2 separate regions of the Homo sapiens genome follow, and region 2 is linked to region 1. A link means that fine-mapping ties the variant in region 1 to the expression of a gene that starts in the linked region. Tissue or cell type: whole blood. Region 1 holds a variant in brackets; the other region holds the start of a gene. All regions are shown on one strand. Distances are between the middles of the regions. Region 1 overlaps SH3BP5 (SH3 domain binding protein 5). Region 2 holds the start of SH3BP5 (SH3 domain binding protein 5).

What was found.
Region 2: it holds the start of SH3BP5, and the variant in region 1 is fine-mapped to the expression of SH3BP5 in whole blood (INTERVAL, PIP above 0.99).

The regions. Positions count from the first base shown.
Region 1 is chr3:15,298,254-15,310,814 of GRCh38, forward strand. SH3BP5 (SH3 domain binding protein 5) reads right to left here. Exons shown (of 9, transcript NM_004844.5): 3 at 5,850-5,978. Among named protein-coding and RNA genes, the nearest start is that of SH3BP5, 28 kb to the right of the region's middle. The variant T/G (reference allele first, on the strand shown) is at 6,280.
Region 2 is chr3:15,326,822-15,339,382 of GRCh38, forward strand. SH3BP5 (SH3 domain binding protein 5) reads right to left here and starts at 5,765. Exons shown (of 9, transcript NM_004844.5): 1 at 5,450-5,765; 2 at 3,683-3,745. The coding sequence starts at 5,587. RefSeq lists an enhancer at 1,250-1,439 and silencers at 5,334-5,393, 5,474-5,873, 11,789-11,838.

The DNA of each region.
Region 1 (12,561 bases):
TCCCTCAATTAGCCAACTCCATTTTATGGATGAAAAAAAATGAGGCACAGAGATTAGGTAACCTGCCAAAGGTCCCACAGCTTTTAAGAGGTGAGCCTACAAGTCACTCTACAAGTTTCAAATGTTTTCCCACTCATCTCCTTTCCTAAAGGAGGTTATATGTAAGACATGGCCTTATATAGCCCCACAGACACAAAACAGGCAACTTTCAGCACTAAATAATCCGCACTATTTTGCATTTGTGCTGCCCATCAAGTTTGCAAAGTGCTCTGCTCTCTTCTGACGCATTCCAACCATTCAAAAATAACAAGGGTTGCCCAATGTCCATGGATGAATGGATAAATAAAACGTGGTATATACATTCAGTGAAAGGAAATTCTGACACATGCTATAACATGGATGAATGTTGAGGACATTATGCTAAGTGAAATAAGCCAGTAACGAAATGACAAATATTGTATGATTCCTCAGTACTTATATGAGGTACCTAGGGTAGTCAAATTCATAGAAATAGAAAACAGAAGTGATGGTTGCCTGAGCTTGGGAGAGGGGAGGATTGGGGAGTTAGTGTTGAATGGGTACAGTTTCAGTCTGGGAAGATGCAAGGGTTCTAGAGATGGATGGTGGTAAGAGTTGCACAGCAAGTGAATGTGCATTCACAATGTGAATGCCTTAATGCCATCCTTAAAGAATGGTTAAAATGGGGGAGAGGCAAAAAAGAAAAAAAAGAATGGTAAAAATGGTACATTTTGTGTTGTATGTACCTTACCACAATTTTCTTAAAGAGGAGAAAAAGAAGGGTTGGGACTGATAGTGATAAAATGACAGGTCCAAAGCCACTGTTAGACCAGTCAGCACCCAGGGAGCCAGGTAAGCAAGATACACCCTGCTTTTCAGCGTCATTGATTCACATGGGCTCCGCCCTCATCAGACTGCTCCCCTACCATATGCTGAAGGCCAGATGGACTGGCAGATATGTCAAAGCAGCCTTAAAAACAAGCTTGGGCTCAAGGACAAAAACTCTCAAATCAAAGCCAGTGCCCTGCCCCCAACCTGGCACAGAAAACACACATCATGTTCTACCTCTGCTTGGCAGAAATTGGACTTGGTTTTCAAGATCACAGAACTGGATCTGACTCATTGGCTGAAAAATGAGCTCATATCAGGAAAAATAAAATCGATGCAAATTTTTAATGAACCAATACAATTTCCACCAGCTCAACAATTAGATTTTTTTTTTTTTTTTTTTTTTTTTTTTGAGTCAGGGTCTTGCTCTGTCACCCAGGCTGGAATACAAGAGAGACATCATGGCTCACTGCAGCCTTGAACTTCTGTGCTCAAGCAATCCTCCTGCTTCAGCCTCCTAAGGGCTAGGACCACAGGCACATATCACTACATCCAGCTAATTTTAAATTTTTTTTATTTCATATAGAGACAAGATCTCACCATGTTGCCCAGGCTGAAATTACAAATCTTTGTAAACTCTTCAAAGAAAATCAAGTGTGGGAGGTTTTTCCCTTTTAAGTACCCTCAACTGAGACACTGGATATTCCAGTGGATAGATAGACATGGATATTCCAGACACTGGAATAGACAGACATGGATATTCCAGACATAAAAAACCACCACTATGCTATCTTCTTTTTCTCCAAATGGCATACGTACTTTTATTTCAAAATATTCACAAAGTTAAGAAAAAGTACAGTACAAATAACTTTTTGCTCTCAACCATTTGAGTGAGTACCTGATGCTCCATCACCCCCCCAAATACTTTTTGTAGTTGTTATTTCCTACAAATAAGGACCTTCTCTCACATAATAATAATGTAACCATCAAAAGTGGAAAATGCATTGATACATGACTATCATGTAATTATCATTATTTCTTTTTTTTGAAAAAAATATGGGATATACATCAAATAGTAAGAGAAGGTACTAGGATTATTTTCTTCTGTCTATTTTCTAAATTTTCTACAATAAATTCTAATTTTTTAATGAAGCCGAAACCCAAGCTCATGCTGGGATTCCATTGTCAAACACATTATCTCACTTAAATCCTAAGGCCAACCTCATGAGATAGCCAGGGCTGTTCCCTTGACTGCCAGCATTTCATGAATGAGGATGCAGGGACTCTGGGGACGCAGTGCCTCCTGACTCAAACTAGAAGGAACTGCTATCTGAAGGAGTCTCTCAGGCACCATTTCCCTGCTGTACATAACCAGAGAGCTTTGTAAATATAAAAAGGAAGCGGGGGCGGGGGGACAAGAGGAAGAAAACAGGAAGTCCTACTTGGCAGCATCTGGAAGTGGACATCGCCCCCCTCACCATCAGGAAGGTGAGAGGAACATTCACACACAAACAAGCTCATCCATCTGGCCTGAGCAGCCCACCCTCCACAGAGATGAAATGTGACATCTGTGCCCTGCCTCAGCCTTTGAACATCCTTCCAGTTCCTTCGCTATTGACCAACAAGGTCCCTTGGGGTTGAGGGGTAGGAGTTAGATTAGGAATCTAACCTTTTCTACCCTGCTTCTTCCTGCCCACCTGCAAGAAGGAAGGAGATTACGGGGAGGGCTTGCAGGCATAAAGCCAGGCAGGATGCTCTCAACATTCATCTTGGGAGCTGCCCATTAAGAGTGACTCACTCATCCCCAGGACCTGGGCATCATCTGATTCGACCGATGACTCAGTGCCTTGCCCACAGGACTCAGTAATTGCCCTATTGTCCTCACTAGCCAAGAGAAGGGATGAAGAGATGGAGAGGAGCCACCATCCACTGCTTCCCAACAGACTAGGAGCCTCCCAGCCAGCTCCCTCCTACCTCTTTTCCCAACAAAGAAGATTTGGGGTGCAGAAGAGCAGGGAGTGGTGTGAAATCTGCTCCAGGATGTGTCACAGCCAGCTGGGGACCCAACTGCTAAACGGGATTTGAATGAACTCAACCCAGACGAGGCTGGATTTGCCAGTCATGCCACTCTCCATCTGCTTACCTAGCTACCAGGTGGGAAAGAGGCTGTGAGTAAAGGAGCAACGGAGAGGAAATGCTCATGACTTCAAGGGAGGGCAGGGGAGGAACCTCTGGTCTGTTGGTGGCTCCCCAACATCATTCACTAGTTTGTTCATTTATTGATTTATACAATATTTGAGCACCTTCTGTATGCTGGCATTGCAGATCCAGCAAGGAGCCAAACGAATGAAACTCTCTGCCCTTGCTGAGCTTCACTTACTGTAAACAAGTAAATTATAACAGGTCATATGGGGAGAAGCCCCACAGGGAAAAAGGAAAGCAAGGCATGGGGGCTGGGGCTGGCAGGGATGGTGGGCTGGGAGTTAACCATTTTAAATGTTAGCCTGAGAAGGCCTCATGGATAAAGGGATAGACATTTGAGCAGAAACCTGAAGATGAGGAAATCGGGCTATGAAAATACCAGGACATCGCCAAACAGAGGGACACCACCAAACAGAGGGAAAGGCAAGTCCAAAGACCTGAGGCAGGAGCACGTTTCACATCAGCACAGCCAAGGGAGTGACCTGAATCAGAGGACCAGCCTTGAGAAACCCCAACACAAAGCCCCCTAGAGCCATCTCTGCCCCCAAACCTGAGCTCAGGGACCAGACAAGGAAAACTTCAGGTAGAGAAGCCACTGCCGCGACTCCAGTGGGATGCTTCAACAGACCATCCTTCAATCACTCTGCAGCATGGGCACGTGGGCTGCTTTTAATAGATACGCGTGGGCTAAATGGCATCACAGAACCATAAATCCCAGTGTTAAAGACTTTCAGGAAAGGAGGTTTTCTGAATTCCTCGATATTTATCCAATGTTTAAATTAAATCCTCAGAAGCTTCTCCTCAAACCTAACCTGAACCCTCCATACTTCCGTTTCAGGTCAAGAATGATACAACCTTGGCCTACAGTGGGTAGGACACATCCTCAACTTGGGGGGCATCTCAAAGATTAATCCAACGTGGACACTTTGGAGGGGGAATGCCTCAGGGTGCTGGAATCTGTGGGAATTGGAAAGTGCTTTTTGGAGAAGGGTTTCTTCTCCCGGGAATTCTAGAGGCCTGGGCAGGGCCCAGCTGGAGATGGAAAAAGGGAGTGGCTGCTGCTCAGGGCTTGTGCAGACCAACGAGCAATCAGAACTTTGAAGTATACAGCCCAATGCACCAGGCCAGGGAAGAAAGAAGGGTTTCAGGCAGCCACTCTGTCTAGGAATAAAGGCAACATATCTGGCAAGGTCCAACCAGGAACTTCAGCTCAGGGTTCAGAGCATAAAACCCAAACACACAGGTACGATCTTGGTAGAACTCCCAAAGCAGCAAGGGGCTCCCTTGAAGAGAAATGAGAGGTGCATGGAAATAGGAAAAAGAAGAGGAATGGTTAAGTCCTGGCCCTCATTCTCTATGGGTCTATCTTAATATATTCCTAGATTTCTGGGACTTAATTTCCAAAGGGTCCATCCTACTGATATCTCCCCCACAGTGCACAACACACTGTGCACATACACAGTAGGTGCTCAGAAACTTTGCATTGTTGTTGCTCTCTCATTTTTTCTTTCTTTTTTTTTTTTCTGAGACACATTTGTGCTCTGTCGCCCAGGCTGGAGTGCAGTGGCACGATCTCGGCTCACTGCAACCTCCACCTCCCAGGTTCAAGCGATTCTCATGCCTCTGCCTCCCTAGTGACTGGGATTACAGGCGCCCACCACCATACCCGGCTAATTTTTGTATGTTTAGAAGAGAGGGGTTTCAACATGTTGGCCAGGCTGGTCTCGAACTCCTGACCTCAAGTGATCTGCCCACCAAGTGATCGGCCTCCCAGAGTGCTGGGATTACAGGTGTGAGCCACCATGCCCAGCCTCACTAAACATCTTCTTACAAGTGGACACTTTTGAAGGCAGCATCTTCCATCATGTCATAAACACACCACAGGGACAGCACTGGGTCATTTGCTAGTGAACTACAATTTGGACCAACTGCTTAGATCTTCTTGGGAAATCTGAACTCTCATCTCAAGAGGCATCACAGGGTTGGTGATTCACATTAGCTCTCTAATCGGGAAGCCGAAGCAGGCTGAGGAAGGTGAATAAAGCCCCCAGCCCAGAGCCTGCCACACAGCAGGTACTAGTAACTGTTGAGGGCTCTTTACCTTCCCCATTCACAGGGCCTGGCTATCAGAGGCTGCAGGTGACACAAGTGGCACATCGCGTCACACAGCAGCCAAAGGAAGACCAACTCCTAAACCAGAACCCATTTCCACGCAGCCCCCAGCAATCGCCTGATCACAGTCCCCTCCGCCACTCCCCTTCTGGTCTCCGTTTCACTGCTTCTTATTTGGGCTCTCAGGACAAAGAACCAAAGTTTCAGCAGGACGATGGCCACGGAAGTCAGAATCCGCTAAGGAGTGTATAACAACTCACCTGCCAAATCTTAAAAAGGAAAAAAAAAAAAAGAAAAAGAAGAAGAACCGATGTTTCAAGAGAAGCAGAAGGCTAAACACTCCCAAGAGTGAGGCGAACGCGAGGCAGTAAGCGAATCTTCCTACTGCTGTCTGACAGGTTGTCATTAGGAGCGGAGGAGGAACACCCTCTGGACACGTCCCCTTAAGTGCACTCAGCACCAACTCAGGGAGAGCACCCACTTGCAGGGTCATCCAAATGCCAGCACTCACACCCTATTAATAGTGTCGAGCACTGGAATGAAGCAGATTGCGGGGCGGTGGGTCACTGCATTTAAGACATATTGGACTCGAGCTTCTAACCTTCAGCAGGTGATACAGTCAAAGGCACCCTTAAAACTGAGGGGTAGTGAGGCTCGAGGTAGGGGAGACATCTATGGGGCTATCTTACCTGCCTCGCCACCCTCCGTGCCTCCCAGTAGGGCTTGGAGTCTTCCACAGCTTTGCCAATTTTCTTCACCAGTTCATCCAGTTTCACCGTTGCTTCAACCAGAACAGAGCGGAACTTCTGACGAGCATCCTGCAGCCAGGGGAAACCGAGGAAACACAGTTGAGGCTTAAGAAGGGATCTGCAAACACCTACTGGACCTAGACAGAAACATCAACAAAGGACTTTACCCAACGTACAGACCCCTAAAGTAGCACCTTTACAAGACAGTGTCTAGAGCAGCACCGCCCAAAACAGCTTCCTGCCACGGCGGAAACGTCCTGTGCTCTGCACAGTGCAGTGTGGCGGCCACCAGCCACGTGTGGCTACTGAGCACTTAAAACTGGCCGGTGTGACTGAGGAAAGGAGTTTTTAGTTTATTTAATTTTAATCA[T/G]CTCGGGTGTGGTAGCTCACGCCTGTAATCCCAGCACTTTGGGAGGCCGAGGCAGGCCCATCACTTGAGGTCAGGAGTTGGAGACCAGCCTGGCCAACATGGCAAAACCCCATCTCTACTAAAAATACAAAAATTAGCCAGGCGTGGTAGCAGGTACCTGCTGTCCCAGCCACTCAGGAGGCTGGGGCACAAGAATCTCTTGAACCCAGGAGACAGAGCTTGTGGTGAGCCAAGATCATGCCACTGCACTCCAGCCTGGGTGACAGAGCACGACTCTGTCTCAAAAAAAAAAAAAAAAAAAGCTTAGTAAGCAACAACAACGCAAAGTTTCTGAGCACCTACTGTGTATGTGCACAACATGCTGTGCACTGTGGGGGAGATATCGGTAGGATGGACCCTTTGGAAATTAAGCCCGTCTCTACTAAAAATACAAAAATTAGCCGGGCATAGTGGGGGACACCTGTAATCCCAGCTACTCAGGAGGCTGAGGCAGGACAATCATTTGAATCAGGAGGCAGAGGTTGCAGTGAGCCGAGATCGTGCCACTGCACTGCAGCCTGGGTGACAGAGTGAGACACTGTCTCAAAAAAAAAAAAAATTAATTCATTATATTTAAAATTTTTTAATTAACATGGCTAGCAACTACTATATTGCATAGCACGGTATAGATTAAAAAGCTTTGTCCAGGACCTCTGGACAGCATGTTGTCAAAGCTCAGGACTTTAATCAGAGACATAGATTCAACACTGACCAAACCTCTATCTGGGGAAGAATGTCCAGCCATCTCTGACAGCTTCAGTCCAAATGATGCTGTCAATGTTAAACACTGAGTGCAAATTTATTTATTTATTTACCACATGCCAGACCTGGTGCTGGGCCTTGGGCGTGGCCCTGTCTCCAGGGCACTTACAGCCTGGTGGGTGAGGTAGGTATTACAGCCCGTTCCAGAAAAGTCAGTGCCAGGGTGGGAATGGTCCAGTCGCCATGGAACTCAGCAGGGAAGAATGGCGCCAGACCATGTATTAGAGGGAGAGTCACAGGAAACTTCCAGAGGAGTACTATCTAAACAGAAGTCCAAAGCATGAATAGGAAATTGGGGGAGGGGAGGAAAATACTGAGTCCCAAGCAGGCAGCAGAGCCTGTGTCCAGATAAGAGGGGAATGGGAACAGCATGGTGTCTGCAAGAAACTGAAGGAGGCCGGAGGTCTGGAATGTGGAGAATGGCAAGAGATAAGGGTGGCCATCCATCCTGGCGACAGCAACTAGCAACTTGGACCTTGATAGGAGTTAGGAAGGCAAAGAAGGACTGTGCAAGGCTTAATCATGTTGTAAAAGTCAAGAAACCAGATCCAAGAGGTATAAGGAGAGAAAAAAAAAATTAAATAAGTTAGTCCCAGGTCTAGGAGGACCTATTGGAAGGGATCAGGTCAGTGATTCAAACCCCACATCCCCTCTACCTCTCCCTCAGGCATCTGCCTGACAAAGCCACACCTAGGGGAAGGAAGGACACATGCATGAGTTTAAAAAAAAAAGAGAAATGGCAGCCGGGCACCATGGCTCATGCCTGTAATCCCAGCACTTTGGGAGGCCGAGACGGGTGGATCATGAGGTCAGGAGATCGAGACCATCCTGGCTAACAAGGTGAAACCCCATCTCTACTAAAAATACAAAAAAAAATTAGCCAGGTATGGTGGTGGGCACCTGTAGTCCCAGCTACTTGGGAGGCTGAGGCAGGAGAATGGCGTGAACCCGGGAGGCGGAGCTTGCAGTGAGCTAAGATCGCGCCACTGCACTCCAGCCTGGGAGACAGAGCGAGACTCCGTCTCAAACAAACAAACAAAAAACTAGCTGGGCATGGTGCCGTGTGCCTATGGCCAGGGCGGAAAGATCGCTTAAGCCCAGAAGGTTGAGGCCGCAGTGAGCCAAGATCACACCACTGCACTCCAGCCTGGACGACAGACCCTGCCCTGTCTCAAAACAAAAACAAAAGAAAAGAAAAGAAAAGAAAGGGGAAGTGGATACTCCAAAAGAACAACACATGATCATGAGCTATGGGCCTGGAGACTCAACACCCACCTGCTGGTAAAACATGTGTTTCATTGGCTAGAGGGGCCTGCCTCACAAGTAACTATCAGAAAAATTTTATGTTATTTTGAGACAGAGTCTCACTCTGTCACCCAGGCTGGAGTGCAGTGGCATGACCTCAGCTCACTGTAACCTCTGCCTCCCGGGTTCAAGCAATTCTCGTCCCTCAGCCTCCCAAGTAGCAGGAACTACAGGTGTGCACCACCACGCCAAGCTAATTTTTTTTTCGTATTTTCAGTAGAGATGGGGTTTCGCATGTTGTCCAGCCTGGTCTCAAACTCCTGGCCTCAAGTAATCTACCCGCCTAGGCCTCCCAAAGCGCTGGGATTACAGGTGTGAGCCACGGCACCCAGCCGACATTTTATTTCTAAACATGCAATTGCAGGGGTTTCATGGGGGCAAAGGAGGCTCTGATCAGTTCTAATTCATTCCATCATCCCAAGCTGTTGGCTTGCTAGTGGGTTTGAAAACGCCGCCGGCATTCCAAAATATGAGGATAAAAGCTTTACCTCCCATGGGAGCACCTCAGCTCCCGAGCCTGGATCCCATGTCCAACACAGGCTTTGCCCCCTTTCCCCTGGTTCTGTGCCATCATCATCATCCTGATTTCCTCTGCCTTCTCCCTTATCAGACCAGGCTTAGGGTCATCCGCTGCAGCTTCTACAGGCAGAAGACAAGACTAGACTTGTTCTCCAGGGGAAGGGCCCAAGGAATAGAGAAGCCCCACAGAGCTTCTACAGGACTTGGCTTCCAATAAGAGGGAAGCAGCATGCTGTCAAAGCCCAGGATTTTAATCAGAAACACAGATTCACTGCTGACTAAAGCTCTTTCTGCAAGGCCCTAATCAGGGCCGTCTCTATGAACCATTTGTATTACCTATAAAATTGTTACTTTCCATCCCATAGGGAGGGCTCTTAGAAGGAATCAAGGAGAATACAAATGTAAAACATTTAACAATTTCTGGGCACACAGTCAGTGCTCAATAAATGCATACAATTTTTTTCCTCCTGGTATAAAAAGAGACCCTGAGACCCTATTAAAAACCACCCAGGGAGTTTCCCAGAGGCGAGGGCAGCTGACACGGTGGACATAATAACCTGTTCCACTGTGCAGGCAGCCGCTCTGCAAGATGCACTCGCATGCATGACCGCATCCTCACGGTCACCTCCCTGGTGGTGGCCAGTGCCAGTGCTGTCCACATTCACACCAGTGAGAAAACGGAGGGCCAGATCGGTTAGCGTGTGGCCTACAGCCGGTCACATCAACCCCCAGGCCTACTCTGTTAAATGAGAATTGAGCCCCAAAGCAGTGGCCTACGGGCCAATAAGCTTAGTACATTTGGCTGATATGCTGTGTAGTAAACGTCAGGGAAAATTCACATTTAAAAAAAAAATGAATTCTCAAACTTTTCATTTAAAGAAAAAAAATAGCTAGAAGCAGAGCAGAAGGTGCCCCCTTAGGCAGGGGTTACCCTCCTCTCCAGTCCCTATCACTCTGGTGTCTGAATCACTCATTCAGGTTCCCTGCCCAGCCGCTAAAGATATCTGATTTGCTGAGAGCTCTCTGGGGCACTGGTGAATACAACCCACCAACGCTGCCTTTGTGGAGAAAGAAGGATGGATACAGGGCACAGACTGACTGACTGCTATGTGGCAGGCACTACTGTCAGTGCTTTAACCCCACCAATTTGTGCAATCGCTAACAATCCTAACAGGTAGGTGCTATTGTTGTTATTCACATTTTATAAAGGAGGAAATAGAGGCAAGGAAAAGAAAGGTAACTTGCCCATGGTCACAGAGCTGGGAAATGGCAGAGTGAACAATTAAACTCAAGCAGTGCTAAGACTACTTACACACGTTGAGCAACAGACACACGGCTGAGAAGGCCACCCAACCCAAGTCAGACATGAAGAAAGAGGATTCCACCAGACAGAGAAGGGGGACATTCGACCCTCCAGCACGGACGGACGGGCTGGCCTGGTAGGGGCTGGAGCAAGGACGCCTCCTGGCCATTATAAAGGCATCTGAACTCAATCCCATGAACAATGGGAGGGCATGGCACAGTGGGGAGAAGGGGAGATTACTTCTTGTTTCTTTCTTTGCAGAAGATTTTCTGGTGCTAGTTCATCACTGAAATTCTGTCTCCCTCTGCTATTCTCTACTTGCCATTTCTCTTCCTTTGGCCATAAATCACATCTCAAAATCAAACCTTTTAACCTAGTTCTATGTGATGGGTTTTCTTCCCATAGGGTTACTTAAGTCTCAAGTAATTTATTTCCAATGCACCCTTTGTCAGAAATAATTAAAGAATGCATTCTACCACAAAAAGGAAACATAATCATAGTTTACTAGATGGCTCAACTGTGAATAGCACTTACCTAGCTGCAATAAAGTAATCAAATACTGACCACAATGGATTCTGCTGAGAAGACAGCAGATGGGAAAAGTACAGGACAGAGGGTGAAAAGAGACAAAACCTCATCTTCCATAGCAGGATGTCCACAGATAGTCACTCAAATGAAAAAAATCAAGAAGTAGTCACACAATACATACTACTTGGTCATAGAAATAAATACCTCCATCAGCTAAAATACATTAAACTAATATAGTTAACTGGCTAGGGGAGAAAAAAACAGGGGTAGGGTGGGAGAATGGGATAGTATAGGGCTTTTTGTTTGATTTTGTGTTTTTGTTTTTGGGGGTTTTTTGGGTTTTTGTTTTCACTTGATCTTAGCCAAAAGGCCGAGAATCGATGGGGTTTTTGTCTTCTTAAGAGACAGAGTCTTGCTATGATGCCCAGGCTGGAGTATGGTGGCTATTCACAGGCATGATCATATCACACTGTGGCCTCAAACTCCTGGGCTCAAGGGATCCTCCTGCCCTTTCCAAGTAGCTGGGACTACAGGTGTACAACACCATGCCTGCTTTTTTGTTTTCAACTGTAAAATATCATAGATTTTTCTAAGCAGGGGCATGACCTGATCAAATTTAGGTTTTACAAAATTGTTACCTGGGTGCAGAGTATGTTAAAAGACTCCTCAGGTGATTCTGATGGGCAGGTTCAGGGCCTGCCAGTCTGACTTGATGCCCTTTTTGTGACTATCTGTACTAAGTGTGTGACCATCAAAGGGTATTAAACCCAGAAGACTTGATTTGACATCAGCGTTTCCTTCTATAAATGAGGCTGTGCTGCCAGGAATGATGCATGACTGGCTGACTTCCAACCACCAACAAGCCTATTCATCAAAGATGCATTGAAACTGAACACAAAGCCAGTCTTCCCCGCTCCACCCCCCCCCCATAAGAAAAAGCCCACCCAGTTGTTTCCATTCCACTGAGGATCACAGCTACTTGGGTAACAGTTCCCAGAAGTATTGAGGTATGAGAGGCCACAAACCAAAATCTTTCCTGTCTCCCCAGTGTTACAGCCGTAATATTCCTTGGTCCTCACCCCCACCTCTCAGTCCCTAGTGATGTGACAGGGCCTGGCCACAGTCATACTCCTAGCCACAGTGATTGTTCGATGAGCAGGGGCGATAGACATGACCCATCATAACCAATGAGACTTCATTTCGGGACCTTTCTGCAACTGTTAGAGGAAATTTCTTCCACTTGAGATGTTTAAGAGGATGGAATGAAAGCCTGCAGCAGATAGCAGCCATCCTGGCATCATGAGGGGAGAGCCTAACAATAAAGCCATGTGTATAAGGAGCAGAGTCTGTGGAATTTAGTTCAACCTAGCTTTTATAAAGCATTTCTTTCAATACATCTTAAAACCACCTTGCCACAATTGAACTTAGACTTTCTGTCTTGTTTCTTAAAGAAAAGACTTGACTGTGATCCTTTGTCTCCTGCAATTACAAGCAAATGTGTTTTCCAAGATCAGAGTGGGGGTGGCTTCAGGAATGTCCAGGGAGGAGAGTAAGCTGACTGCTTTCCCTGCAGAAAATGAGCCATGGAGGGGAGTGGCTCAAAAGTACAAACTTATCTGAGAGAGCAAGCAGATCTTCCACCAGTCAAGAAAAAGAATCCGTTTACCATCCCAGGGCTGTTTACCAAGGGAGTTTTTAGATCAGCACTTGAAAGAGTTCTTAAACAGTTCCCTCTGCTTGGAGGAGGCCTCAGCTCTTCAAATGTGAAAATTGTGTTTCATCCATTAGGTGACTCAGACTGAAGGTAATTTATTCAAGCAAAGAAT
Region 2 (12,561 bases), 29 kb after region 1:
CCTGAGCACGAGCAGGCTGTGATGTGGCTTACAGAGCAAATACATGTTAGGTGAGTGGCCCTGAGTTCAATGCTAATGAATCAATAGTATATAGTAAATAAAGTGTCTTTTAATGGAAACTGAAAAGATTAATATTGATCAGTTGATGAAAATGTGACCACAGGCTTGCTCCAAGCCCTGCATTTTCCCTACAACAATGGTTCCGTATTCACTAATTCAGTGTTCACAACTTTATGGAATACAAGTACCACAAAAACAAGACTGGGCACGGTGGCTCACACCTGTAATCCCAGCACTTTGGGAGGCTGAGACAGCAGTGGCGGTGGGGAGGGGGGTAGCGACGACACGAGATCCGGAGTTCAAGACCAGCCAGTTCGAGACCAGCCTGGCCAACATGGTGAAACCCCATCTCTACTAAAAATACAAAAATTAGCCAGGCATGGTGGCGCACGCCTGTAATCCCAGCTACTCGGGAGGCTGAGGCAGGAGACTGGCTTGAACCCGGGAGGCAGAGGTTGCAGTGAGCCGAGATCACGCCATTGCACTCCAGCCTGGGCGACAGCGTGAGACTCCGTCTCAGGAAAAAAAAAACAAAACAAAACACTTGACTGTATATTAAAATGGCTCATTTTCCTGCCCCCATCCTTGGGCATACTCCCCTTGACCACCCCAGTGGCTCACTCCACCTGTTCTTCTGCAAACAGAGGCTCCCCTGCAGGCATCTGCTCAGGTGTCCTCCAGCAGCGCCCCTCCAGTGTCTCTGTCACACTTCTTACTGTAGCTATTACCACCAGTAATTATTACCCCCGCTCTGCTACTCACCCCAACCAAAAACGTAAACTCCTGGAGGGCAAGGTCTTTGTCTTGTTCACCCACATAAATGCAGTGGCCAACAGTGTCTGACAAGCAGTTGGTGCCCAGCATGAAGGGTGAAATCCCACCTGGCTCCTTTGTGACAGAAAACACCTATTAAACCTATGCCTCCCAGTGCCAAATGTAGCTAACACTTGAAACGTGTCTAGTCTCAACTGAAATGTGCCCTAAGTGTAAAATATGCCAAAGATCTTAAAGACTTAGTACAAAAATATATGTAAAATATCAGTAATTTTTTAATAGCAAGTCCACGTTGAAATTGTACTGTCTTGGATATTCCGGGTTAAACAAAATATTTAAATTCATTTCAGCTGTTTCTTTTTCGTTTTTAATGCGTCTACTAGGGAGTTTTTAATTGCTTATGTAGCCTGTATTATATTTCTATGAGTCAGTCTTGGTTATAATACCGTGAAAAGGCCAGCCAGCAACCCAGCCCAGCCCTGGCCACCCCCCTCACACCCTCCAGTTCGCCTCTCACACGGTTCCAAATGCTCTCCAGAGCCAGGCAGGAAACACCTGTCTGGTGGCTTCCTGTGACACACAAATACCTAAGTGTATTCAGAAATGGGATTCAGAAGTAAGGGCTAAAAAGAGTTTAACAGATTAACCAATTTCACCCCAAGAAAGTAAGCACACTTGGGGCTGAGATGTGGGCCATCTTGTTCATTACCCAGAACAGTGGCCGGCACATAGTAGGCGAGCAACTAGAATCAATCAATGCTTTTAAAAAAAAAAAAAAAAGACTATTTCCAGGATGGGTATGGCAACTCATGCCTGTGATCCCAGCACTTTGGGAGGCCAAGGTGGGAGGATCACTTTGAGGCCTGGAGTTCAAGACCAGCCTGGTCAACAGAGCTAGATCCCATCTTTACAAAAAAGCTTAAAGATATGAAAAATTAGCCAGGTATGGTGGCATGCACCTGTAGTCTCAGCTACTGGGGAGGATGATGCAGGAGGGTTGCCTGAACCCAGGAGTTTGAGGTTGCAGTGAGCTGTGATTGCACCACTGCACTGGGATAATAGAATGCAGGAACTGGAGGAGATCTGGAAAATGCCTGGGAGTATAAGATGGGAGCCCTGCCTCTGAGGCGTCATAGTACCAGAAGATGCTGAGCCTCTGAGTCCTGATCTGGAAAGTAAATAGTCCCTACCCTCCTAGCTCTCCAGGCCAGAACATTCTATGATGACAGCAGTTTAATACAGTGGCAACTGGACTGTTTAATATAGTGGCAACTGGGCTCTTGAAACGTGGCTATTGTGACTGAGAAATGGAATTTTTAGTCTTACTTAATTTTAATTAAACTCATTAGCCAGGCATGGTGGTGCACACCTGTAATCCCAGCTACTCAGGAAGCTGAGGAATGAGAATCACTTGAGCCCAGGAGGTGGAAGTTGCAGTGAGCAGACATCACACCACTGCACCCCAGCCTGGGCGACAGAGTAAGACTCTGTCTCAAAAAAAAAAAAATTTTAATTAAATTCAAATAGCCATACGTTGCACATGGCTACCATATGGGACAGCATAGCTCTAGGCTGGTGTGACAGGATGGAATGAGCTAAAACGTGTAAAAAACACTCTGGAAATGCTAAAGCCCTATAGGAATGGTAAGAGTTTTGTTGTTTAATGCATTAGAAATCTGAGATCCTGAGAGGTTTCAGTTACCCCACATCACAGACAGACTCAATTCATAAGTGAAAGAAATGTAAACAAACACAGATTTTACTTTACTTGGGGAGAAGGACAGCCCATGCTCTTGTATACCTACGATGGAAATGGAGGTGGTTAGCGATAACCCTTCACGCAACTCAGAGCAACAGGCTTTTTCATCCACATTGCTGCATCCAGATTTGGTAACTCCAGGGCCTACGCACGCAGCAGAAATCAAGGCTGCCAGTGAATCCTGGTAGATTATATTCCTATCTCCCACACTCTCACTCTTAGGGACCATGTGCTTCTTGTCCCTTCCACTGACGTTTGCTATTTCTCCTGCTACAGAAACAGACTTTGCCAACAGCTCCCTGCATTGGGAAACTGCGCTGAGAGTCCCTTTGGGGTTCTGACAGTCAATTCACAGTCTCCTGAATACATATAGTGGTTGTTCAAATTTGCTGATGGGTGGTAAAAGCAACCACTACTGGAAAGGGGTGGGAACTAATCGGAGGCTGTGATGAATGCTAACTTGTTTACACTCCCATTGGAAAATGCACATGAAACCCAAATCAAGTTTTAGTCTCCCAAGATTTTTCCCAGCAGGAAAGGCCTTCCCAGTCTAAACAGCTTTTTGTTACCATTATAATTATATTCTATGCACTAGCAGACAATAAAGAAATGAGCAGGGAAGCAGAAGGAGGCGGGGGGTGAGTTATTAGGACAGGAAAGTCAAGAAATGGTCGAAGTCAGAGGAAACAACACAACACTCTCCAGGACAAATGGCAGGAACTGCCCTGAATATGTAAGAGATTTTGTGAGCTCATTCATTATTCTCCATTAAAGAGTTCGGCTAATTTTCCCCTGTCCTTTCAGTCACATTAAAACTTGGGGCTTAAGCGTTGTGTAACGCTCTGCACAGACTTGGTTTAGGCCCCATGGAGCTTCCATAATGAAAAACAACATGTGCAATTGGATCCACATGCGTTCCGCCCACAGGTTGAGCTCAGTGGTGTATTTTATTCTGTCAGGGAGCTGTTGCTCAACTCCCAAGGAGGGGGGTCCAGCAATAACACTCCAGCTATGAAGACAAAATTAACCAGCCTTGTGCCGGTGTGAGTGACATCACTTCACCAAGAACAGGAACTCAGCTCTCTGTACCTCAAGTTCAGTCTCCCGTCTGTTGATATCATCCGTGGACTGATTTAACTTCTCCAGTTCTCCCTGGTGAAGAAAAGAGGGAGAAAAAAAGACTTAAGGGATCCGTCTTTTGTTTCCAATATAACTCAGTCCATAACCTGAAAAATTACCCCAGCCCAATTTGCAGGAAAAGGGAAGAATCAGAATTAATTCTTACGGCAAACAGTTGAGGCTTGACTAGAAAAGCAAATGAATGTCGGCATTTCTGAAACCATTTTCTTGAGGGTGTCCCTTTTGACAATGTCTTCAGAGACATTTGGAATTTGTCAGAGGTCAACTATTCCAGGTACATGCCTTCAGGTAAACCCCACCTGTTACAAATGGTTTAATGGCCTAATCAAAACAGTACCATCTGCCTTGAGCAAGAACTTTGCTTAGAAAACAATAAAAGACAATAAGCAAGGCCAAGCCAAAAATATAAACCCAGTGAAATCATCAAGGGCAGAATTCTGGTATTAACTCACCAGAATTATTTTTCTGTAAAGGGTGAAAATCTTTTCACACTGCCAATTATTCAACCTACTTAGCTGGACGTTTTAAACTAGCTTTAATCCCATTCCTTTCAATAAACATTTACAAACTGACATTTTGTAAAAAAAGTATCCAACATGAACTTAACTCATCATTACTATGCAAACAAAGGATCTTGCTAACATAATCCCATACCAGTAACACACGATTTATTCCAAACCAATTACTTTAATTAATAGCATTCCTAATGCAAGGATTTTTTTTCCACCTGATCTTTATCTTGCTAAGCTGACAAAACAATTCATTTAAACCCCAACCACTGAGTTAAGTGAGCTTTTAAATTGATCTGTGCACTAAAAAACCAATTAGGTATCCAGAAATTACAGAGCATGCTTAAAAGCAATTTTTTTAAAAAAATGATTTATTGAAAAGGTAGAAAAAAAACGGGCCTTAGAAAGGGATTTGCTCTGCTTTTTGCTTAGGGGTGAAGAGGTGAAACTGTCACTCCTAGATCTCGGCTTGGAAATTGTTTTTTAATCATCTCTCTTGGAAATGGAGGCACAGCCAGCCAGCCCAATCCCCTCGCCGCCTCCACGCGTCAGCTTTGCGCATCAGTTGTCCCCGATTTCTTTTCATGCCCAACCTCACAACAAGGAAAAGCAGGGTTTTAAGCAATTTCAAGCCAGGCAGAACGTTGAGCCAGTGATGACAATAAGCCGCTCAGTTCGCTAACAATCAATCAGAGAAGGAAAACGGCTCAGGCCGGGCACCTTGGCAAGTGAGGACTCTGCACCCGGGGCACCGGTGCCAGCCCGCGCTGCAGGGCAACGCCCACCCGCCCACGGTGCCCGGCGCCCACGCGGGCGACACCTCCTCGCAGAGCCTGGACGCCGTGCCATGCCCGCGGTGCCGCGGCCGGGCAGGGGTACCCCCGAGGATACCATGGCGCCCCCGCCCCCTTTTTCCCTTTGTTGCACATCCACCCGAACCACCAGGCACGCTGCACCGACCCCGATCCTGCTACGGGTCGGCGGGGGACTCCCCGCAATAGAGTCAGGCCGCATCCACGCGGGCACTGTAGCCTCCTCATTGTGGAGACGATGAAACGGAGCATACAGACCGTCTCCTGCCACCCTATGTGGCCGCCAGTCCCCGGACCACAGTTACTGGGGGCTGCGAAGTGGCTGTACGCGTAGACACCGACCTCCGTAGCAGCCCTCGCGAAGCCCGGATGCGGGGCGACCCCGCGCGCCCTACCTGGATCCGGGGATCCACCTCTTCTTCCTCCTCCAGCCCCTGCTCCATCCCCTCTTCCTCCTCCTCCTCCTCGTCCCGGGCAGGCGGCAGGATTTCGGCTGGCTCCTCCGAGCGGCTCCGCTTCAGTGCCGCGTCCATGCAGGCAGCCGGCACGCGCGCCGCGCAGTGGGCTCCGGAGCGCCCCGGGGGTCGCGGCTGCCACAGGCTGGGCTGGAGCCGCCTCGCCACAGCCGGGCACGGTCGGGGAGCCGCCGGGGCCGACACCCGGGAGACGCAGCTCGCCGATGCGGATACCTCCGGCCGCGGCGGAGCAGAGGAAATGGGCGCGGCCGCCCCCTTTCTGCCGCGGCAGTCAGCGCAGCGCCCGCTCCGCCCCCGTCCCGCCCCGGCCTCGCGTTCCGCCGCCAGTCCCAGCTATCCAGGTCTCCGTCGCAAAACCCCAGCTCCCTCCACATCTCCAAGGTGGCAAAATAGGACAGCCCCCACCCCCTTGTAACTTAGCAGCTCGGATATATCTCAACTACGTAACGCAAGCCTCCCGCTTTCGGGAGTCCCCTCCTCCAGCCCTCCTCCGAGGCTCGTTGTTTGTGTGGTAGGGAGGCGTGGGTGTTTTCACACTGAAGTCGCCTTCTGAAGCCTACGCTCAGTGACCCTGGCCCTCAGGACCAAGACTTGCCGAAACCCTATACCCAAAGCACACTCATCCTCTTGAGCGAACCTTGGGAATGGCGGAGGTTCCGTGCACTGATGCATTGCCGAAGGCTGCGGCCTCTCTGGGCGAGCCCCATACCGAAACACAGAGGTGCGGCGGTCCTACCTGAATAGCCAGGAGCATGGAGAATGCATTGAGCTGGGATTTAAGGAGGTGGCAAGTGTAACCCCTGTTGATGGGCACACTCTGGCCAAGAATTTATGAATTAGTGAGACTTTCTGCCCACCATCAACAAGTAGGGAGACAGAGTTGGCCTGGCAGACACAGCATCCGAAAAGGCCAAACTGAAGAGGCACGTGTGTGTGCTTTTATGAAATGTCAGGGCCACTGTGATGTCAGGGGAACGCAAAGGATGACCTTGGCAAAGCAGATGAGCACATGGCTGCTCACGTCTCCTTGCCTTGAGAAATGCAGAACGTGCACATGTCCTACACGGAGGCCTGTAGCCCATCGGCTCTGAGTTTGGAGGACAAATTTGCTTGAGAAAGGAGCTTCTTTCTGAGAACCTATCATCAAAGCCACCTTACAAAACCTGGGTCTGGCACAACGTGGTGGCTCGTATCTGTAATCCCAGCTCTTTGAGATGCCAGGACACAAGGATCACTTGAGGCCAGGAGTTCAACACCAGCCTGGACAATACAGCCAGACCCCTTCTCAAATGAATAAATAGTCCTGCTCCTGGTGGTTTTATCAGAAACTAGGCTAGAGGGTTACTCCTTGGGCAAGGCACCACCCCATACACGCTGGCACTGTAGTCCACTGTCAAAGGAAATTTGTCCTGTCTCCTGGAGGTAGTGCCATGGTTTGTTTCTAAAAAGGTCAGACCTGTTCATTGCTCTTTAAATCAAGGATGAGTCAGCAATTCTGTGAGAGGTGCTTCAAAGCTCCTTGCTAAAGACATAGTTGCTTTTGGTTTTCCAATGATAGATGAAGCCAGGAACAAGATAGCCATAGGGGTCACTTTGGAACACAGGAGCCACCAACCTTCTCTGGTGGCTTGGAATTGAGCCTCCAACTTTGCAGGTACATCCTAGCTCTGAATGAACTGAGAGACAGAGTTTGAAATAAACAGAACTCTGGGGTCAGCCCTGACTATGATAAATGCTTCTCAGCTAGCAGAACCCTATCCTCTCCATTCTAAATGGCAAACTCCAAACTACATTCCTGCTTAAGCTTAGGTCAAGAGCAAAATACATCTATGAGACATAGGCCAACTGCTCAAGAACATCAGTTCAGACTTTTGTTGTCTTATTTTTTGGAGATCTGGGCCAGCTATAGTGTTAATCCTAATAGTCTTTCTAAAGATAAAATGAGAAAAATAAATAAACCACAGGCAGTACTATATACAGTCAACCCTCCATAGCCTCTCAGGTTCCACATGTGTAAATTCAACTAACCACAGATAGAAAATATTTGGGGGAAAAAAACACAACAATTAAAAAAATGCATATTTAAAAATACATGGCCAGGAGTGGTGGCTAACACCTGTAATCCTAGCATTTTGGGAGGCTGAGGCAAGGAGGATCACTGGAGGCCGGGAGTTCCAGACCAGCCTGGGCAACAAAGCGAGACTGCCTTGCTCTCTAGAAAAAAAAAAAATACAGTATATGACAACTATGTACATATTTGCATTGTATTAGGTATTGCAGGTAAGAAATCTAGAGCTGACTTAAAGTATACAGGAGGGGCTGCTCATGGTGGTTCATGCCTGTAATCTCAATACTTTGGAAAGCCAAGGTGGGTGGGTTGCTTGAGCTCAGGAGTTCAAGACCAGCCTGGACAACATGGTGAAACACCATCTCTACAAAAAATACAAAAAATTCGCCAAGTGTGGTGGCTCATGCCTGTAGTCACAGCTATTTGGGAGGCTGAGATGGGAAGATTGCTTAAGCCCAGGAGGTAGAGGTTGCAGTGAGCTGAGATTGCACCACTGCCCCCCAGCTTAGGTGACAGCAAGACCCTGTCTCAAAATAAATATATATATATAAATAATAAAGTATACAGGAGGGGCCAGATGTGGTGGCTCATGCCTGTAATCTCAGTCCTTTGGGAGGCCGAGGCAGGAGAGACGATCGCTTGAGGCCAGGCGTTTGAGACCAGCCTGGACAACAAAGCAAGACCTGGTCTCTAGGCCAGGCATGGTGGCTCACATCTGTAATCCTAGCACTTTGGGAGGCCGAGGCAGGTGGATCACCTGAGGTCAGGAGTTTGAGACCAGCCAGGACAACATGGTAAAAATACAAAAATTAGCTGGGCATGGTGGCACATGCCTGTAATCCCAGCTACTCGAGAGGCTGAGGCAGAAGAATCGCTTGAACCCAGGAGGCAGAGGTTGCAGTGAACCGAGATGATACCACTGCATTCCAGCCTGAACGACAGAGTAGGACTTTCTCTCAAAAAAAAAGAAAAAAGAAACACCTCATCTCTAATAAAAATTGTTTTAAATTAGCAAGGCATGGTAGCACATGCCTGTAGTTCCAGCTACTCTGGAGGCTGAGGTAGATCACTTGAGCCCAGGAAGTCAAAGCTGCAGTGACCCCGATCATGCCACTGTACTCCAGCCTGGGTGACAGAGGGAGACCCTATCTCAAAAAAAAAATGTTTTTAATGAAAAAATAAATTAAATAAAGTATACAGGAGGTTGTATGTAGGTTATATGTAAACACTGCCATTTTCTACAGGGGACATAAGCATCTCAGATTTTAGCATTGCAGGGGTCCAGAAACCAATCCCCCAGGGATATCAAGGGACAACTGTATATATTCCCTATTGGCACATATGTAGTGCACATAAATGCATAGCAAAAGGCCTGGAAGGATTTATACCCAGTAAAGAGTGGCTACCTCTGGGAAAAAGGGAGCAGGGCGTGGCCTAGGATTGTCTGGGATGGGGGCAGGGGATCAAAGGAATGTTAGTTTCTCAGTAATGTTTTTATTTTTCACAAGGAAGATATGTTTATGATTGTTTTGTGGAATTTAAAGATAAATTTAAAATAATGCATACTGGTCAGGTATGGTGGCTTATGCCTGTAATCCCAGCTACTCTGGAGGCTGAGGCAGGAGAATCACCTGGACCCAGGAGGCAGAGGTTGTAGTGAGCCGAGATGGCACCATTGCACTCCAGCGTGGGCGATAAGAGTGAAACTCCGTCTCAAAAAAAAGAAAGAAAGAAATGAGAAAGCGTACCACATATACTTTTGGGGGAAAAGCACTCCAGAGACTGCAGCAGCATGTGCAAAGGTCCTGAGGTGGGAATATGCCTTGGGTGTTGGCAAAAAAGCAAGGAGATCCATGTGGGTAGGACAGAGACAGCCAGGGAGAGAGGGAGGGAGATGAAATCAGAGGCAAGCATGTGGGTAGGCCACGGAGATGCTTTAGGTCATGGTAAGGAATTTGGATTTTGTTCTGAGTGAGTGCTCCTGTAATAACTCTGGCTAGTGTATGAGAAATTGACTCGGTGGACATTGAGGAGCTAGGGTCAGAGGAGACAAAGGAGATCCATTAGCCTGATGATCAGCCTCTTCTGATTGCTTCTGTTTTTTCAGCAAAGTAATGAGCCACATCATCAGCTGAGAATGAGGGGATGTGGGGCAGAGGGCAATGGAGGTTGGAGGAGAGAGGCTTTGTGAAAGAGCTTGCAGGGACAGTTGGTGACTGAGTTGACCATGGGAATATATTATAATCGCCAGGTTGCGCTAAGGACCCACCTATGGTTTGAGAGTCCCAGTGAACCCAGTCAGCAAGGACGAGTGGATTTTCCTATAGTATAGTCTCCAAATCATTCCCATCTTTCTAACCCTTGATTCAGGGCTTCATCATGGCTCCCTAGACTCTTTTACAGTCCCTCACCCTCTTATGTCCACACTTCCCATTTGATCTAGCTTAGATTCCATTGTCCATCATTAAAATCACCACACTACAGTCAACCACAACTCCCTCACGCTTCTCCCCGACCACTGTAAGCACTTGGCATAATCCCAACCCTGGTTCAATCCCACAGTCTTACTACTTTTTACCTGTACTTAGTAGCTAAGCTAAAGTGCTGGAATTATAGGCGTGAGCCACCACACTCAGCCAAAGAGTTGGGGTTTTTTTTAGTTTAGTTTTTTTTTTTTTTTTTTTTTTTGGGACAGAGTCGCGCTATGTCACCCAGGCTGGAGTGCGGTGGTGTTAGCTCACTGCAACCTCCGCCTCCTGGGTTCAAGCTATTCTCCTGCCTCAGCCTCCTGTGTAGCTGGGATTATAGGCGCCTGCCACCACACCCAGCTAATATTTATATTTTTAGTAGAGATGAAGTTTCACCATGTTGGCCAGGCTGGTCTTGAACTCCTGATCCACCCACCTCAGCCTCCCAAAGTGCTGGGATTACAGGCGAGAGCCACCGTGCCCGGCCAAGAGTTTTTATTTAATGTTTTTAAACTGAAGTTTGCAAGTGAAAGTGATCAACAACATTAATTCATTTGTATTTTTGTTCTGTTTTTTGTTTTTAGATCTAGATCTGCAGAAAGCAACATTAATTCAGTACACTTTTCAGCCCCTACTATATGCATACACTATTTCTGGGGCCAGTTTGAGGGTCCCAAACATGTAGATGACAAATTCCTAGTCCTTTACTTGGGGAGACAGGCCCTCATGAAACCTGGGCCCCAGGCCAGGTCTCACACCTGTAATCCCAGCACTTTGAGAGGCCAAGGGAGGAGGATCGCTTGAGGCCAGGAGTTCAAGACCAGCCTGGGCAACATAGTAAGAGCCTCCCCACATCTCTACCAAAAAAAAATTTTTAATTAGCGGAGTGTGGTGGTGTGTACCTATAGTCCTAACTACCCAGGAGGGTGAGGCAGGAGGATCCCCTGAGCCCAGGAGCTCGAGGCTGCAGTGAACTAAGGAAGTGCCATGGCACTATAGCCTGGGTGACAGAGTGAGACCCTGACTCAAAAAAAAAAAAAAAAAAAAAAAGTGCCCCAAAGCAGCAGCCAAGTCAATCCCTCATTGTGAAGTTAAGACCCTTTCTGTCAAATTTCAATGCCATTTAAATTAAGATTCCTTGCAATGCCAATTTTTTTTTTTAATGCTTTGTGAGCTAGGCGTGCTGGCCCACATCTGTAATCCCAGCACTTTGGGAGGCCAATGTGGGAGGACTGCTTGAAGCCAGGAGTTCAACACCAGCCTGGGCAACATAGCAAGACCCCATGTCTACCAAAAAATACAAAAACTAGCTAGGTGTGGTGGTGTGCACCTGTAGTCCTAACTACTCCAGAGGCTGAGATGGGAGGATTGCTTGCACCCAGGAGGTTGAGGCTGAAGTGAACCAAGACTACACTACTGCATTCCAGCCTGGACAACAGATAGGGACCCTGTTTCTAAATAAATACATTAAATTAAATTAAATGCTTCGTAACTACCTGTTAACTCCTAGAACAGAAACTGCTGTCTGGACTAAGAATGAATCTGCATTCACATCACACTCTGGTGTCAATATCGGAAGAAACTGATAACTAGCATCCCCTCTTTCTCCACCAGTGATATTTACGTGGCACTTTAGGTCAGAGGCTGCAAACTGGAAGCGACTGGTGGGATCAGGCCTGGGGTATGTGCTGCCTGGCTGACATAGCCTTTATAAATTTGAGCCAACAGTTAAAACTAACATGAAGGAGGCTTGCAGCAGTGTGGGGTGGGGAGGGACTCATGCATGGGTGCGCAGCCACCACACCCCACCCCCATCCCTTGCACTAGCAAGGTCCCCCGAAAAAAAAAAAACCTAAACATGAAAACAGTGACCTAATATGAAAATGCAGACATCTCTGATTGGCAAGAGTGTGGAGAAGATGTGAGGAGTGGCTGGCTGGCCCCTTTAGGATGGCATGTAGTCTCAAATTAACCTCAGAACCCTATTGGCAGACCACTTACACCTGGCAGGCCACACACAGGTAAATGTCTGACCTCTCCCCAGAGCCCTCATGGTAAGGTGTTGCAGGAAAGCTGGCTCGTAGGTCTTCCTGCCAAATCTCTCTTCTCTTCCCAGCGACCCCTAAGGATCATGGCACATAGCAAGGTGGAAGAGAATTTTAAGGTAGACCATAAACCCTTCAACAATATTTTTTAACCCCAAATGACTGGTTCTAAGAATTCAAGAGTCTATAGAAGCCAGTTCTTTGAAAGGGATCAGAGCCTCCACATTAAAGAGGCATCTGTTTAATTTAGCGATTCAGTGACATCAGTGTGTTGCCAAATTGTCTTCCAATGTGGCCACTCCCCTCTAAGGAGAACCTTTATTTGTGTCTAAATTGAATTAAACTTGTCTCTTGACCCAGATGAATTACAGGCCACAGCACCTAGAGAATCCAGGAAAGAGATTTTCAGTGTATATCTGTAGTCTTACAGGACCTACAGATATTTAGGAT